2 linked regions of the Homo sapiens genome follow. The protein of the gene in region 2 purifies or fractionates together with the protein of the main gene of each other region. This does not show direct contact. Each region holds a gene or a part of one and is shown on either strand. Other genes may lie near its edges.

Region 1 (3,819 bases), on a different chromosome or scaffold from region 2:
GGATGGTAAACTACTACCGTGCGGTCTGGATGGCATCGAAGGCTGGCTTCCATCCTGTGACTTTTTGTGGTTTCTGCTCCCCAAGGATTCCTCCAGTTCTGGGTTTGCTGCTCAGAACCACAGGCAGCTGTTAGCAAGGAAGGCCTCTCCCATCCCTGGGGAGAGACTGCCTACCTTTTGGTCACACCTACCATAGTTGGTACTCAGGCCTCCACCACCATCCTCCTGGAGAACCCAACCTCCAATCTCAAGAAGCCCTCAAGGTCTTAAGTCTGAGGGAATAGGAGTTGGATCCCTCTCTCCAAAGTGTACTCACTGTGTAACCTTGGCCAAGTCCCTTCACCTCTCTGAGCCTCAATTTCCTAATCAGCAAAAAGAGAAAATACTACTATCTATCTATCCTAGTTTAAAAGACGTAGCAATTGTGATTGGCAGAAATATAAGATGGCCTCCAAGATTCCAGTCTCGTGGCACACACGTCTGTATAATCCCCTCCCCTTGAGAGTGGGCGGGACCTGGGAATATGATAGGTTAGTCACTCATGCGATTGGGTTATGATGTATAACAAAGGCGATCAGATATTCACTCTTGTGATTACAGTTACTTTACATAAGACTCTGTCATAGCAGATTAGGAGAGATTCTCCTGCTGACCTTGAAGAAATGAGCTGCCATGCTGTGAGGGGGCCATGTGGCAAGGGCCTGGGGGTGGACTCTAGGAGCTGAGAGTCACTCTGGTCCAATAACCAGGAAGAAAACAGAACTTTAATCTATCTGCTGCAAGAAATTGAATTCTGCCACCCACCGGTGAGCTTGGAGGAGGACTCAGAGCCTTGGATAAGACCACAGCCCTGCCAATACCTTGATTCCAGCCTAGTGAGACCCTGAGCAGAAAAGCCACTTTATGTCATGCCTGGACTTCTAACCTACAGAAACTAGGAAATGAGAAATGGCTGTAGTTCAAAGCCACTAAGTTTGTGGTAATTTGTCACATAGCAATTGAGAACTAATATAATAACCTTAGTTTGAAATATATAAAAGTATTATGTGAGGCCAGGTGCAGTGGCTCACACCTAATCCCAGCACTTTGAGAGGCACAGGCTGGAGGACTGCTTCAGACTAGGAGTTTGAGATCAGCCAATCAGCCTGGGCAACCGAGTATGACCTCACCTCTACAAAACAAACGAACAAAAAAAAATCAAAAAAAATTTAAAAATTAGCTAGATGTGGTGGTGTGTGTGCGCCTGTAGTCCTGGCAACTCAGGAGGCTAAGGCAGGAGGATCGCTTGAGCCCAGGAGTTGGAGGCTGCATTGAGCTGTGACTCTACCACTGCATTCCAGCTTGGGCAACAGAGACTGTATCTCAAAAAAAAAAAAAAAAAAAAAAAAGGAAGGAAGGGAGGGAGGGAGGGAGGGAGGGAGGAAGGAAGGAAAGAAAAAAAAAACAAGTTGTGTTATTTATTTGAATAGGTTAAAAACAGATGGGCTGGGTGCGGTAGCTCATGCCTGCAATCCCGGCAATTTGGAAGGCCGAGGCAGGCCGATCACCTGAGGTCAGCAGTTCAAGACCAGCCTGACCAACATGGTGAAACCCCGTCTCCAGTAAAAATACAAAACTCAGCCGGGCGTGATGGTGCATGCCTGTAATCTCAGCTACTCAAGAGGCTGAGGCAGGAGAATCGCTTGAACCCAGTAGGCAGAGGTTGCAGTGAGCCGAGATTGGGCCACTGTACTCTACCCTGGATGACAGAACGAGACTCCATCTCAAAAAAAAAAAAAAAGTTGAGTGTAGAAATTGCATACGGTTCAGCCTAATATGATGTAAAGTGCCTAGCATGCAGTAGGCACTCAGTAAATGCCACTGTTATTATTCCCCTAGCTCCACTGACCTGAGTACCTTAGTGTATTCAATGGTTAAATGGACTTCTTTTCCTAGCACTGGCTTTGACAGCTGCCGCCCTCCCCCAGGCTCCTCCCTCCCCCAAACCACCCTCTCCCTGCCTGTCAGAAGAAAGCGCTCAGAGCTGTTCACACCCCTTCTGAGAGACCCAGGGCACAGCTCCTGAGCCGGGCTGCCTCTCTGGCTCCAGGGCAACAAAACGCCAACCCGAACAGACAGCAGAAAACAATATCTCTGGGGCAGAACAACAGCTGCCCACCAGCCCCATACCAGCTGGTGGGGAGAGGGAAGCCAGCAGGGCTAAGCAATGGGCTGCTTCCAGACTCGCCCCGCCGCGTCTTCCCTGGGTCTTGGGAACCCACCATGTGGAACTGTGCATTGCTTCTCCAGCAGGACCCTGCGCAAGTGCAAAGGTTTCTTGTTATGTAAAAAATGCAAATCATTCTTTCTAACCAACATGCTGGGCCAGATCCCTGCGTGGAGACCTGAAAAATAGTGGCGCCTTTGGAGAATGGAACGTCAGACAGGTAAGTTTTGATTGACTCGGCAGGATGGCTCACACAGTCAGGAAGGGTCTAGAACAGGCCATCAGAGGAAGGAAGAGCTCTTGGCTCGAGGGAGGAGGGTCTTTAAAGTCACATTTTTTATGATGTCTACTGGTATCTAGTTCCACAAACCATCTGCCCTACTCACTTCCAAAACAACCCTTAAGAATCTCTAGATTGGCAGGGCACAGTGGCTGACGCCTGTAATCCTAGCACTTTGGGAGGCTAAGGCTGGTGGATCACCTGAGGTCAAGAGTTCGAGACCAGCCTGGCCAACATGGTGAAACCTTGTCTCTACTAAAAATACAAAAATTAGCCCTGTGTGGAGGCAGGCACCTGTAATTCCAGTTACTCAGTAGACTGAGGTAGGAGAATCACTTGAACCCAGAAAGCGGAGGTTGCAGTGAGCTGAGATCGCGCCTTTGCACTCCAGCACTCCAGCCTGGGCAACAGAGCAAAAACTCCGTCTCAAAAAAAAAAAAAAGAATCTCTAGATTGATCAGATCTCCAGGACACACACAGACCCTGGGAGCCAGCTATAGAGGCAAATTTTTATTAACTTCCAGGTATCAAATAAGCAACAACATCAGTCGCTATTCATGGATTACTTCATTTAAGCCTCATAACTGATAAGGATCATTATGCTTTCTTTACAGATGGGGAAACTGAGGCATAGACAGCTTAGTAGCTTACCCAAGGTCATAGGAAGAGAGCTGGGATTTGAAACCAAGGAGACAGATTCCAGGGCTCACATTCATAACCGTTGTGCCAAATAACCAAAGGCTTTCTAATCTTGGGCCCTGAGTTTACCACAGTCAGTAAAAATAATTGTTTGGGAGTATAGTATACTCTACCTGAAGCAGGGGCCTGAAACTGTCCATCCCCAGTGTCATTTGCCTTCAGTGGAGACTTGGCCCCGTGGTGGCCCTGTGCTCTGACTCAGATGTGCACCTGTGCCAGGCAGCTTTGCTTAGCTAGCTGAGCCCTAGGATGGGCACAGCAGGTGCAGGATCCTCCCCTAGGCACAGAGCAGAAGAAGGCTCTGTGGTAGGGGAGTGGTAGGCCCCTTCATGAGGAGGAAGGCAAGTGGAAACAAGTGTTCCTGGGAGCCAGAGGTGGCAACTCATAATCTTCCCTGAAACATTGGCCCCTCTACCCCAGCTGCCCATCCTGAAACCCCCTGGAGTTCTCACCTGCCAGCCCCTCTGCCTGCCCTACTGTTCTGGGCCCACCAGCAGGTGTCACTCAGATGCCCAGGGCAGAGCCTCCCCAGAGCCTCCTCTCCTGGAGCCCTGAGAGCGGGTGCAGTGGGGAGGGACTTGACTTTAACTGGCGACCATGGAGTGAAGAATATGCTGGAGAAAGCCACTGTCTG
Region 2 (4,334 bases):
ATAAATGTAATTCAAAGTAGCAAGCTCTGCTTCTATTAATAGCTCTGCTAAAACCTGGAATGGGAAAAGGCTAAAATTGCATATGAAAATTAAGTTTTTAAAACCACATAATTACTATTTCAAATTAGTATGTAAAATAGAGAGTATAAACATAGACATAATACTACCAAGTAAATTAAAAATATGCCTCATATCTGGAACATTCCTTTCCATTTTAGCTAAAACATTACAACTAAGGCATAACAATATAAAAAGGGAGAAAAAAAGCTTTAGAGCAGGTCACAAAAATGACAGAGAAGGACTTGAGAATCAGAACTTTGAAGATCAGTTTACAAAAACACAAAATATAAACTGATATTAGGAAGAGGTAAAAATAAAGACATAAGTCAATGTGAGTTACAGAAAATAAATAGCCTTACAAAACAGGTATATATTTTTAAGTATGTTAACGCAAACACTAGTATTTTCCTTATTAAAAAGGAAGAGTTTGGTAAGATTAACAGGCATATTTATGTAGAAGTATAGTTAAGATTATAGAATAATTATAAACTTCTGAGATTATTAAGATTCAAGGATGATATCAATCAAATAAATATAAGCACATTAAATATATATATTAAAGAAATAAGCTAATACAGAGAAAATGTCAATGTAGACACAGTAACATAAGAATTTAAAAGGCATGTTTCTTATATTCTTCCCTTTAAAACCTAACAAATTGGTATTATTTAAGCCATAGGTATAGAAATGTACAAATCAACTCATTTTTATCAGAGAAATGTTCATATCCCAAAAGATTTTTTGTGTGTGAATATTGTAAATATTCACACACACAAATAGTCAAAATGTAACCAGATACTTGTATATTTATATATTATTTTTCTTCTACTCACTGTTATTTTTAAAATATGCAACTAACTAAAATTACAGTTTCTACATGTCGTTTTCAAATTATAAAAACCTATACCTACTAACCAAAGGGTACAGTTTTATACCTGCGATGCAAAAAACACTTTTCTCCATGGTTCAAGGGAGAGAAAATTCTGCATAAGTAGCACAGTATAAAACAATTTTACTGCGTAGTTTTCTGGATATCTAGCTATTGGGATTTCATCATTTGTCATCACAGTGAACATTTTAACCAGTGGCCCCAAGAATTAATCCACTGTGTATTCATGTCCTGGATTCCCACTGGTGATATTTTTTTTACTGTGCTATCAAGTAGAAATAAGCAGTATCTGGTAAGAAGCTAGGCTCAAAAATACTTTCCTAGTAAATTACCAAAATAACATATGCACTTGGCTACAAAGTGGTTTTTTTCTGCTTCTCTCCTAATTTCAAAGGGATTTCATAGTAATCAATAATTTGCTTATATAATGCCTCTTCCACCAATAGAAAAGCACATTGTGTAAAGCTTTGTTTGAAAGGCTCCTCAAACTAACAAGGAGTTTACAATTTGTTTAAATTACCCTAAATGGTTCAGAATAAGAATGTAGCTGCCATTTTTATATTTTGCCAGAGGTTACAATCTGAATTAGTGGCAAGATAATACTTTTGAAAATTCCAAGGCAAATAGTTACATAGAAGACAAGTTTAACCAAAAAATTGCTTCTAACTCTAAAAAAACCCAGTTGCTCTTAGGGGTATTTTAAAATTCATAATTTGATATCCTTGCAAAGCAGTAAGAGAAAGCTTACTCTTTCCTATACGACCCAAGATCAAAGTGAAACTAGACTATTAAGGAATAAAAACAACAACAACAAAAAACTTTTAATTTTATTAAGTAAACTGAATCCCTAATTAGGCATTAACTCCCTTTAGTTGTGTTCATCTTTATTTTAAACGTGTTAGAAAAATAATTTAAACTGTCTTCATATACACAATCATGCCATTAACAAGTTTACTTATTGATTTTGTTTATATTTGTTAGTTAACATATATTCAATAAGTGTAGACAATGACAATTCATAAAAAAGCAAGGTTCCATTTCTCTAGAAACTGCTAACTTTATATAAATTTTATATAAAATTGAAAATTCCAGTGAAATGTAATCTTAAATGAGAAAAAAAGTATCTCTCAGAAGCAAACTAAATAATTTAATTTTAAAGCTTAAGAAGTTTATGAAGTGATGTCACAAATTTCAACCCACTTATTCCTCCCTAACCTTTACTTTTAGAAACTACAGGAGGGAAGGGGGAGGGGAAGACAGTAAAAAGTAGCTTAAATGCAACAGAAAAATTCCTCATAGCCTCACTTTTCTCTTTTTAAAAAATGCAAAACAAAGACACTATTCATTGCTCCCGTTGTGGGGATGCTTACTATGCATATCTCTATCACGACTAAGCCAAAGCCCAATAGATAGGAGGCGCCATAATTTTCCATAACAAAACAAAATAAAGCTTACCTTTGTATGTGGTTCCTGTCTCTTACCAGGCAAAAACTGGAAATCTGGGGAATCATCTCCATAACTTTCTTGGTTGGCTCAGAAATATTGCTTTTAAAATCTGATTGGGTCTCTTTTTGCTGCAATAGCTCCTGTTTGGCATATTCTTTGAGCCTTTTATAAAGGGTGCGTAGGCCCTGTGCTGTTCGAGGAGGGCGGTCTACTCCAATTGCATTATAGTTAACTGCTATGATATCCCAACATCTATTCTTTTCTACTATTACTGAATGTTTATTAGTGTGTTCTTCGAGAATTTTCACATATGGCTTCACAAGCTTTAGCAAATCAAGCTTTTCGGATAAGGTAAAATTGGAAGATCTAGCCTTTCCTACCATTGTTCTTTTCAAATTAAGTAGGCAGTTTCTGAAACCACCATGCAGCCTTCAGCTCTGCTCAGCTCTTTTCACAAACAGAAAAAGATCAGGCTTAACTAGGCTAGCCTCATTTAGGCCCACGCCTACAGGGGAGGGTTTATTAAAATTCCTCCAGCTTAAGCTGACGCAGGTTCAGGAAATCTGCTTAAGCCAAGCCTGACCTACATAAAGCTTCTCACTGAAGAAGACAGGAAGGCACAAGCAAAACACACTTGTGTATAAAGGGAACAGCTCGAGACAGGATTTAATACACAAAGGTCTAGAGATAAGCATGGAACACAGCTAAAAATTAGCTAATTTAGTGAGAATATCAAATTTCACACATGTATGCCTAGCTGACAGACTGAACTGCATTGCAGTATCACTTTAATAAAAACAAAAGAGGAACTGTTTTGTGCTATTTATTTACAAATCCAGTAGACAGAAAACTAAAAGATATGAGTAGTGAATGTAGTAATTCCTAACAGAGCCTCTCATCACTGTTTCTGAGCTGAGTGTTCTCCCTTACAAAATCTGCATAATGCTGGATCTGCTGTCAATCAGGAATTGCATATCCTCTAGCTAGTTAGGTTACACCCAGACCCAGACTCCACAGTAAAGCTAAGCTTCTCCTTCATTTTACAGTCTACATTAGCCTCTGCATATTTTTTTCACTTAAGAAAAAATTTTTATAGAACACTCAATCTAAAAAGCAGGTAAAAATCATGTTTTTAAAGCAATGGATTATTCTAGCCGTAATGTATGTGAATTTGCTAGCCTGCCTTATCATGTGTAAAAAATCACTGTTCATGGTGAGAAACAGTATAATCACGCCTTAAGACTCCACATACAAAATCACATTTGCTATTATAATAGAGCCAGATTTTTTATTTAGCTATATTCACACAGTTTGGACTATGAAAGGAAACAGCTAGTCTAGCCATTTTCAAGGCCACCAGTTTCGGTGCTTAGAATATATTTGTTAACCCCAGTATGAAAATATATGATACATAATAATGTAAGCAAGACAAACCTATTTTCTCACAATATACATATTTTTCCAGATAGGGGAATAAATTAGAACATACTTGAACATAGTTCTATCCAATAAAACTATTACTGAACAACTGTGATAGTTATTAAGAGGTAGGAAAAATAAATTGTTTTTAATTACTGACCACGTATATAAATGCTCCCAGGCACTGTGCAAGACCCAATGAAATCAAAAATGAATCTAGATACAGCACCTATCCAGGGAACTGTAGTTCCACAGAAATGCTATAAATTCTCAATTATCTTGTTTTTCATTCTTTTAACAATGGAGAAGCAAATTACATTTACTGAGCTCTCACTGTGAGCCAATGTGTTAAAAGCTTTAAGTGTATTATCTTTCAGAAAACAGTGAAAGATTGCTGGATGTTCTACGGAATGCTAGATGTTGTCTGGTATACGCTACTGAGTAATTTGATTCCATAATAGTTCTACCCTTTCATTGTCTTTGAGCAGTTTCACAGCTCTGTAAATTGTAGAAATCAGTA

The links.
Region 1: the proteins of FSBP (region 2) and CPNE5 purify together in Homo sapiens (co-immunoprecipitation; one large-scale study listed by IntAct). This does not show direct contact.

Annotation. Positions count from the first base shown.
Region 1 is NC_000006.12:36,832,891-36,836,709, forward strand, and holds part of CPNE5 (copine-5), read right to left. Parts: intron 1-3,819. UniProt on the Homo sapiens protein: Probable calcium-dependent phospholipid-binding protein that may play a role in calcium-mediated intracellular processes. Plays a role in dendrite formation by melanocytes.
Region 2 is NC_000008.11:94,434,091-94,438,424, forward strand, and holds the start of FSBP (fibrinogen silencer-binding protein), read right to left. Parts: upstream 2,855-4,334; 5' UTR 2,779-2,854; coding exon 2,405-2,778; intron 1-2,404. UniProt on the Homo sapiens protein: Transcriptional repressor that down-regulates the expression of the fibrinogen gamma chain. Represses transcription of GSK3B gene promoter via its interaction with APBA1.